Linked DNA regions of Homo sapiens: region 2 is linked to region 1. The links come from fine-mapping of genetic effects on gene expression. Tissue or cell type: whole blood. Region 1 holds a variant in brackets; the other region holds the start of a gene. All regions are shown on one strand. Distances are between the middles of the regions.

Region 1 (5,157 bases):
AGCTTCCATTAATTCAATGAGGAATTATATAATATTTTCAACAAGTAATGTTGGAACAACTGGATATCCATACAGAAAGAAATAAATGTCAACTCTTCATTGACACACCACACACAAAAATCAACTTAAAATGTTTTAGACCTAAATGCCAAAGCTGAGATTTTAACACTTCTAAGAGAAAATATGGGAGAAAATATTCACAAATTTAGGCTAAGAAAAGGTTTCTTAAGTGGGATACAAAAAGCACAAACCATAAAAGAAAAAAACTGGAAAACTGCATTTCACCAAGATTTAAAACCTCTGTTTTGTTAAAAATAGAATTAGTAAAATGAAAAGACAAGCTATGACTGGGAAAAAAATATGCAATACATATACCTGTCACAACTTCTATCTAGAATATACAAAGAACTCTTATATAATAAGACAACCCAATTAAAAGCAAAATACTTCAACACTTCACACAAAAATAAGAATGGCCAATAAGAACATGAAAACATCCTCTACATAATTAGTCATCAGGGAAATGAAAATTACATCTAAATGAATTAAACCTCCACTAGAACAGCTAAAAGTAACTTGAAAATACCAAGTACTGACAAGGATGTAGAGCAACCAGAATGCTCATGTACTGCTGGTGGGGGTAGAACATAGTACAATCATTTTGGAAAACAGACACAAAAGAGTACTCACTGTATGATCCTATGTATATAAAACTAGAGAAAACATTAATCTACATTGTCAGGAAGCAAATGATTGCTAAGGGTCAGGGGGGCCAGGGGAAGGGGATGTTTTCAGTGAAGAGGCATGAAGAAACTTTTTTGGATAATGAAAATATTGCATAACTTAATAGCGACAATGACCACATGAATATGTTAATTTTCAAAGCGCATGAAAATATATACTTAAAGTGAATGCATTTTATTTTATATAAATTATATATGTATATAAATCACTACACTTGATTTTTAAAAATGGTTTGACTTGAGACACAATATTTTGGAACAACTCTCATTTTTTGCCCTCTCAAATATCCTTATTCTATCACCCAGTGTTTTCAATCATACTATATTAATAAGAAAGCCCCTCACTCCATTTTTACCAAACTGCTAATGCTAAATACATCAGCCCTAATCATTGTCATTATATATTTCACCATATTAATTTTTTAAAAAGTTATCTCAAGTGAGCTATTAAAATATTAATATTGTTTTAAGCTATAGTAAAGATAAAAACCTTTTTTATTAAGCGCTTCCTGTTTGCCAAGCATTGTTGCAGACATTTTACATACATTTTTTCTAATTATTATGTATAACCCTGCAAAGTCGACATTACTACCTTTAACAAGGTTAAGGGGCTTACACAAGCCACGAAAGGATCTAGTCAATGACAGAGCGTGGAATCTCGTTCCAGTCTAGTCAGAGTTTGTTTCCTGGAATATTAACCATTAACCAATTAGTATAACATTTAGAAGCACAGAGACACACTTCCTTGACCCATCACTTTAACCAAAATTAGTAAACTTAACTGTTTGCGATAATAAACACATTTCTACTCAAGTTTTTCCAGATGATTTAGGTCAGGTTTTTGTCTTGGGTCCTATTGTTCAATGTCAGTGTGTAAATATAAAGCATAAAGGGTTTTTTTTTATAATAAATACCTTCACTATCCAGGTCATCACTTTGAGCAAACACACTGTCCATAGAAGAGTCAGGAATAAAGGTCCATTCATCAAATTTAGACAGCACATCTTCAGAAAAATTTCCATCGCTGCCTGAGGCTGTTCCTTCTTCCACAGCACTTTTCATCTGATATCTGATCACCATTCTTGCTAGTGTAGATGCTATATCTGAAAATAAGAGATACACCAGCAACTTAGAAATCAACAATTATGCAAAAATAAACATACATAGGACCAAAGTTCTTACGTATTGCTATGCTTCTGGAGAATATTTCTATTTTTCCTTTCAAAGTCACCTTACACTAGTGATCCTGAATAATTAACAGGTGGCAGATCATATATTTTTTAAAAAAACATAACCATGTACACAATGCTTTCATGTAGACAGCAAAACTGAATCTCTATGGAACTAACTTTATTCAGGAAAAGGCCTAGGCTTTGAAGCCAGACAGGCCTGTGTTCAAGTCATAGAAATGCCATTTGTGAGTTATATGAGCTCCCTGGGTATCAGTGTCCTCACCTGGAAAATGAAGATGATAATAAATACAGTATATGGTGATGAAAAAGAGTAATTGAAATGATGCATATAAAATGTTTAGCACAATGCATAGAACACATAAACTGCTAAATAAAGGATCTTGTTATTTTTATAAAGTTTGCTGAGTGATTCATTATGACTATTGGGAAACCTGATGGAATTTCAAAGTTAACATTCTTCTCACAACTTCATTACATTATGTATTAGCTCTACTATGAAGAATAAGTTGGCTGAGTCCTCATTGTTCTACATACAGCCAGGAAGATTTCTTCAAATATTACTACTGTAATGACTTCAAATATTACTACATGATACTGCTGTATCATGTAGTACAATATCCAGTGATGAGTTGGCTAATACAATGCTGGTTAGGCCTCCTACTGTAAAAAGGAAAATAAACCCTGGGGCTCAGAGCATGGTGGGGGATCATTTGATATTACCCCTGTGAAGTGTAGATAATCAGCTAAAAGACTTTGACAACAGTAGGAATAGCAATAATTATAGTAGCAGAGTGAAGTATGCTCATGTATCTACATCTATTCCTACTGTAAATATGTGGTGGACCCATATGATAAACCCCAAGAAGGCAACTGATACTATGGCTTACACTATACCCATATACCCAAATGGTTCCTTTTTCCAGAGTAATATGTTATGATATGGGAAATTATCCCGAAGCCCGGTAGGATGAGCTCACACACAAATATGTCACTTAGGCAAATACTACCTGAAAAATGTTTGAAAGCTATGACCCAAAGTGTTCTTTACTCAGACCAGCTGCCAGTGAAATCATGGTTATACCCTCCAATTAATCAAATGACAATTCTATGTTTTTTTAACTGGGTAAGATGTGTCAATGGTAAAAACTCCAGACAGAACAAAGAGAATATAGTGAATGATAAATCTCCCTC[T/C]GTCCCTCTCCAATGGGCCCACAATTCCTCTCCATCGGATATTGAAGATTAAAGTAAGCAGGTTTTTGGCATAAGACTAGTTTAAGTAATGAAACATGGGATCTAACCATGTCTCAGTAATTTCCAAAGACCCAGAGACAACCAGGGAACCCATTTCTGGAGGGTTTTATTTCATATTCAAACTTTTATAACTATCATATTCCAGTTGCATTTTCATCAACATTAGCATAGTAAAAACACTGTCTGTGCCCTTTTTTTTGCCACGGAGTAATGTAATCTTTATCAGGACATTAAATTTGCTCCACGTTTTTTTTTCCTCAATGATTGCAAAGCATTCCACAACATGTATGTACCATTATTTATTTGAATAGTTCCTTTTGGGGAATACTTAGGTTTTTTTCCTACTCTTTTGCTATTATAAACAATGTTTTAATGTGCATTTTTGTACATAATTTTTGTGCACATTGAGAATGTCTGTATCATAGATTCCTAACAGTACATTGTGAGGTCAAAAAAGTATGTACATATATTAAAAATATTAGTAGATATTGCCAAATTGTCCTCAAAAGAGGACAATTTAAATTCATATCAATATATGAAGCATGTTTCCACACATGCTTATCAACATAATGTATTACACAATTTTTATTTTTTGCCAATATTGAATACTTAATTCTAAATGATAATCTACTATGTGCAAAACACTAGTATCAATGGTAAGGTTACAACCATGAACAAAATTGACATTGACTTCATGGTACTAACAATTTACCAAAAAGTAGATTATAAAAATGAAAAATTAAATTATATAATGTGGTGAATGGTAGTATATGTGAGAAATAAAGTGCTATAGGGTCATGTAAGAGAACCTTCCAGACTGGTGATAGCACTGAGACAGGAAGAATGAAGAGACAGCCAGGTGAAGAGAGAATTTAGAGCTAGGTAGAGAGAGAGTAACACTGGAAAAAGACTGGAAGTAAGGGTACACGAAGTGTTTGAGAAACCGAGGAAAATTCAGCCTGATTGGAACTTTTGGAGCCTACTGAGCGGTTGGAAACCTTGATGTATAAAGGCACCAAATTGCATGGATGGGTACTTTTCTCTAGCAGCACTCAGTTTTCTTGGTGAAACTGAGGGAAAAAGTAGACTGGTAGACTGACCAAAACTGGTGTTTTGCTAGTGAGTGCATCATAAAAATGAGAGAAGCAAACATGTTACTTGCAAGATGGTCCTTAAGGTGTTGATTCATGGAGTTTGATGACCATGGGGAAGGAGATGGGCATGGGACTAAGTTAACACAGGGAAAGCTGGGAGCTTTCACGCTAAAAACACATTTAGTGTGAACAAATGAGAGAGCTCAAAAGATAAAAATAGTGTCAGAAGATGGTAACTTACCATCAATACACATAATATGTACAAAATACACATGAGCTTGAAAGTATAAAGAAAATGCATTATCAATTGAAATATAAAGTATATTCTAAGTTAAAAATGCCAAATAAATATGTGTGTATGCTTTTACATACATTTGAATGCATAGGTACATGTAAGCATATAAAAAGTTAGGAAAAATATCCATATTAATTACTTATAAGAGATAAAATAAGTTATTTTTATTTTCTTTTTTATAATTTTATATTTCCTTTAAAAACAGGGATATCTTACTTTAATAATAAAAAATATATATTAAAAAGTACCCCTTCAAAAAGCTTCCACTATTTTGCTCTATTTTTATAAATAACTATTTGCTATCTCATAAAGAACTTAAATGTCATTTTGAAGTATTTCATAGCCAAAAAAAAAAAAAATCCAAACCTTTGCAATATCTTTGGCTTAAGGTCCCTCAAACTGGCATGAATAACCACTAAAAGACTAGTGACTTAAAAAAATACTATTAAAAATAAGAATTGTAAAAAATATTCTCCTTGTTACTTACTTGTTTGTTTCCTTAAATTAGAAGTCTTATCTGGAAATAAAGGACCAAGCCAAGAAGGTTCAACTTTTCCTATACAAAATCCTCCAAGGCAAAT
Region 2 (5,157 bases), 61 kb after region 1:
CCTGTCTCTAAATTAATTACTTAACTAAAAATAAAAGAAAATGTGGTATACATACACAATGGAATATTATTCAGTCATAAAAAATGAAATCCTGTCATTTGCAACAGCATGGGTGGGACTGGAGGTCATTAGGTTAAATTAAATAAGCCAGGTACAGAAATAAAATATTGCATAATCTCACTCATATGTAGGAGCGGAAAAGGTGGATCTCATGGAGGAAGAGAGTAGAATGGTGGTTACCAGAGACTGGAAATGAAAGGATGGGGAGGGATAAAGAGAAGGTGGTTAATGTGTACAAAAATATAATTAGATACAAGCAATTAAGTTAATATTTAATAGTATAGCAGGGAAATTATGGTTAATAATTCATTGCATATTTTAAAATAGCTAGAAGAAAGAAATTGCAACGTTGCCAACACAAAGAAAAATGTTCGAGGTGACGGATATTCCAGTTACCCTGATTTGAACATTACACATTGTATACATGTATCAAATAGCATATGTATCCCCAAAATATATACAACTATGATATATCCAAAAAAGTAATTAATTACTTTTAAAAAAACTCTTCCTTATTTTCCAGCATACTTTGCCTCTGGTACTCTCTAGGCAGAAATACTAAGTGACACTCATAACTACTCCGGACAAGTATGCTCAGGCTTGGGCAATTTCTAAAATTAAGAATTAGGAAGTATGTTCCAGGCTCCCCTGGGTTGTCAAGTATAGCACTGCCTTATCTAGACCCTGCAGACCAAAACGCCTACCCAGGATCTGACTGTCCTGAGCAGTATCAAGCAGGAGTGACTCTATCAAGTACAGAGTCTAGGGAATGAAGGTGGCCAGAATCAGGCACTTCTGAACACCAAAGCAGAGACAAGTAAGAAGGGATGACGTGGGTGCAGAGCAGGAAGCACAATAGGCCAGTGCCCAAAAAGTGACTCATATTCCACAGGCAAAATTCCGACTTTGAGTCTTAAAAGAACAGCATCTTTATTATGCCTCCATCTTTTCTTGGTTTGGTTTGATAGCAGCGTGAAAATCTATAATAGTCAGATGGAAAATATTTCACAGTTGAAAACAAATTAAAATATTTCTTCCAGATGTAAATGTCCTCATATCAAAGAAGCTAGATGGTTCACCCAGACTAGATACAGCTAGATACAGAGATAAACATCAAGATAAAGATAGACCCACACCACTTTAAAGATTGAGATGCCTCATGTCTGTCAAGCCTCTCAACCATTAAGAAACATTGGCTTTCTGACTGCACCTCCAAGGAGTTCAAAGTCCAATTCTCTTTCTCTGCATGAGTTAACATGCAGATGACAAAACTGATTTCAGTTCCCCAAATCTCTAAGTGCTCCGAAGGAAGTTATCACCTTGGCCTATAATTTTGTTTTGACTGTAAATCATTCTTAATTACCATTTTTAAGGCCCCCTTTAAAAAAAAATCCAAGATACATAGCAAATTTCTGGGTTTCCTATGGTACAGATTGTAAAAGTTTCACTTCTACATGCATTTTATATGACAACAGTTGCAAACTATGAGGGTCTCATAAGACATCACTTTCTTTAGATACTACAAGGTATACTACAACTAAAGGCTAGAAATCTTTGAATTTTAAAAAGTGCTGAACTCTACAAGAGTTTGCTAGTGACAAAGTTGCATTTTATCACTATTAATTATTCCCCTTTTCCAAACTATTCATAATCTTCTCATCTAGGACATGCTCTGTATTGGGAAGATACTTGGAATAGTCAAGTCTAAACACTAATGAATTCATCTTGCCAATAACGAGACTAAAACCGAACCCATTTTTATCCTCCTTCTACCACCATCCATACTGTTGGTTTTATAAAGTTACTTCTTAAAGACACTCAGGGAACACATACTGGGGCTCTTCATCCCGTTTACATTGCGTAATGATTTAACAATATTCCCATCTTAAAATCACAGTCAGAGGTTCCTCAAGCCAAATTTTGGGAATAACCAAGAACTCTCGGCTATATTAACATTGCCAGTAAAACGTCTCCTTCCAAACAGAAGGGAGAATGAGTTGAAGTGAAAACAATGCCTTTACCTGCTGCACACTCGCGACTCTCATATAGGAGTCCAAGACGATCAACAGAGGCACATGGATATTTTTGCCTTGAAATAACTTGGAGGCTGGAAAACAAGTGGGTGGGGAAAAGAAGCAAAGTCACAATCCACAGCACCCCCTCTCCTTTTTAGTCTGAAACGGGGAGAAAAGTCAAAAAGGTGAAGACCTTCCTGAAATTCTCAGCTGCTTTCTGCCCTAAGGAAAGGATATGGGAGTTTGCGGCTCCTTAAGAGTCCGGGTTTGAGCAGGGTCAAGGGGAGGAGGACAAAATTTGCAAATGTAAGGAGGGGGAGAAAGTTTGCAAAAATAAAAGCACAGTTTATTTTCAAGTGATTACCGCGCTCGGAGTACGTGAACACCAGCAGATCCTCCAGGATTTGGACCAGCGTTTCTATCTGTTTTCCTTCCTGGACATTGTTCAGCCTGACTATCAACTTCTTCAGAGTTTCCTCGTCCTCTTCGCACCCCTGACAGCTGCCACTAGCCATGGTGGCACCTGCTTCCAACCCGCCGCCCTCCCAGCATGAACGTCCGCTGCTCAGGGAACCGGCAGGGGCGCCGGCCACAGCTCCCCGGGGGCGAGCTCAGCTCACCGCCCGCAGCCAGCGCTCCCCGCGGGCCCCATCGGCGCCCACGCCCGCCTGTTTATGAGGAAGGAGGCAGCTCCCCGCCCCGCGTTGCCCTCCCTCTCCGGAGCCCTCCTGCTCGGCTTCCTCCTCCCCCACTCAGGCCCCAAAAACGAGCTCAGGGGCCTGCCAGAGGCTCCGCCGAGGCGACGGGCCGCGCAGAACTCTGGCGGCGGCCGTGGGGCTGCTGGAGCCGGGCCTGGCTGGGATGACCGTGACCGTGGCCCCCACGCACGCCTAGACCGGACCCCGGGCGGACGCCGCCTCCTGGGACCAGATTCCACCGCAGCGGCGGCGCGGCCGGGAGTCGCGCGGGAAGAAACTGACTCAGCGGACTCCGCTGAGTCCACAGGCCCGGAGCCCCGCAGCGGAGGCGCGCAGTGCGCAGCCCGGCCGGCCACCCTCCGCGACCCGCCAGCCGGGGATCCTGCGGCCCCACGGAAGGTCTGGGAACTGGGAGCAGGAAAAATGAAAGCCGCCTATCTCCAGATCTAAGAATAGAAATCAGGGCGCTGGGAAAAGAGGACACCGCCCAGATGGCCCCTTTTAGGAATACATTGTCTTTAGAGTTCCACCTATAGGGAGATGAGCAATTTTCCCCCAAAGGATGGAAAGAGGGGTTAGCCATCAAAACTGCCCCCGCTACTCTTTTTTATGATTTTTTGTGACTGTTAGTGGGAGAGGAAATAAACATTGTTTCCCTGTGAGTTATCTGAAGCTCTGGTCACCAAAAGGCCACTAAATTAACTTTTGGAAATTTGAGTTGCACTAGGCAGGATCCTGATACTTGGGACACCCGAAAAGTAATCAGCTCTCAGAGCTATTAGAGCTGAGACAAAGGACAGGGTACATGAAATGAAAGGTGAAAAGTTGAGAGAAGCAAACCTAAATACTCTTCTCTTGGTATTCAGAAATACTTATGAGTATGGGTGTCTATAACCCCAAAGTTTTTTGGTTTTGTCTTTTGATTGTTTGTTTGTTTGTTCTGTTAAGTACCTAAGTAATGTGTTTTTAGGAAAAGAAACCTAGCAAGAACATTGTAGACAAGGCTAGGCAAAGATGATCTATCCTTCAGGTGATGTGTCTGTCCTCAAGATCACTTACAAAGAAGAGGATTGGACTGGAAGTTACTACTTCACAATTTTAGTTTTGTTTTCACATCTGTTACTTCAATCCTGATGACAATTCTGAAATGGATACAACTACTACTATGTATCCTTCTTTCACTAGTGAGGAAATTGAGATTTGGAATTGAGAAGTGAAGAGCTTTGCTGGAGTCACACAGGTGGGAAGTTGAGAGCCAGGACTTCAACCCAGCAAATCTCCTAACTCCAGGTAGAAGGTTCTTCATGCTCTACCACTTTAATAAGAATGCTCTAGACTTTGTTAATACATTAGATTAGTAAGATAGCAAACTCCTACTCAACCTGGATATTGGGTCTATGTCTTGTTGTTATAGAGTCTTTAACTTTTACAGAGACATGCTAAAATATTTATAGTTGAAATGGTTAGGATTTCTTTCAAAGTCATCCAGTGGTGGAGGAAAAGATGAAATGTGTGGAGATAGAGATAACGATAACAACTTTTGAATTGATAATTGTTGAAGATAATATGAGATGGGTTCATGTGGTCTGTTCTACTATTGTATCTATATAAAATTTTCCATAATTTAACAAAAAACTCCCAATCTTACAATATTTATCAGACCTACAGTGTATTATTTTCTAAGTTGTTTCTAAACTTGTTTCCATTTCTGATGACTTAATCAATGTCTCAAACATTTCTAGGCATTCTCCATCTCATGCATTCCTTCTGTTCCTCTGCATTAGTTTCTCCCTTCCTGTTCTACTGAATTACAACCTTGCAAGAAATTAAAACCTACCTCCCTTCCAAAGAAAAATAAATCTAAATTAAAAGATGTCTCCTAATTTCCACAATTCATTCATCCATCTATTGCCTATTTATTATCTACTCTATATTGGCCAGACTGTGAGTAGACAGTGTGAAAATATGAATTATTTGTTGGGAGCATTCTCCCATGAACTACTGCAGTGTTAAGGTAAAGTATTCTCTTAGTTTTCAAAAATGTTTAATTGATTGACTGAAATTCCAAGATTTATCAACTCTTCAAGTAGTTAACAAGACTGAAAATGAAGATTAAGGCATGAATTTATGATGGAAGCAGGGTTCAGTGGAGAATAAAATGGTGCTAGAACATTTGGCTAATTTCCTGAAAAGAAAAAAAATAAAACTGACATTACTAATTACAGCAAACATCAAATAGATTAAAAAGTTAAATAAAAATAACTTCAAAAATAAAATATAAATTAATAGTTATATAATCTTGAAAAAGGAAACATAAAAACAAAAAAGAAATCACATAAGGGTAGTATATGTGACTCCATCAAATTTAAATTTTCTGCAGTCAA

The links. PIP is the estimated chance that this variant, and not a neighbour inherited with it, causes the effect.
Region 2: it holds the start of LRRK2, and the variant in region 1 is fine-mapped to the expression of LRRK2 in whole blood (INTERVAL, PIP 0.96).

What each region holds. Positions count from the first base shown.
Region 1 is chr12:40,284,040-40,289,196 of GRCh38, reverse strand. It overlaps LRRK2 (leucine rich repeat kinase 2), which reads right to left. Exons shown (of 51, transcript NM_198578.4): 19 at 5,064-5,157; 20 at 1,658-1,846. Among named protein-coding and RNA genes, the nearest start is that of LRRK2, 62 kb to the right of the region's middle. The variant T/C (reference allele first, on the strand shown) is at 3,128.
Region 2 is chr12:40,222,565-40,227,721 of GRCh38, reverse strand. It overlaps LRRK2 (leucine rich repeat kinase 2), which reads right to left and starts at 2,725. Exons shown (of 51, transcript NM_198578.4): 1 at 2,440-2,725; 2 at 2,082-2,167. The coding sequence starts at 2,590. LRRK2-DT (LRRK2 divergent transcript) reads left to right here and starts at 3,900. Exons shown (of 9, transcript NR_186757.1): 1 at 3,900-4,063. LINC01779 (long intergenic non-protein coding RNA 1779) reads left to right here and starts at 2,819. Exons shown (of 1, transcript NR_186584.1): 1 at 2,819-4,646. RefSeq lists an enhancer at 1,312-1,401 and a silencer at 2,600-2,959.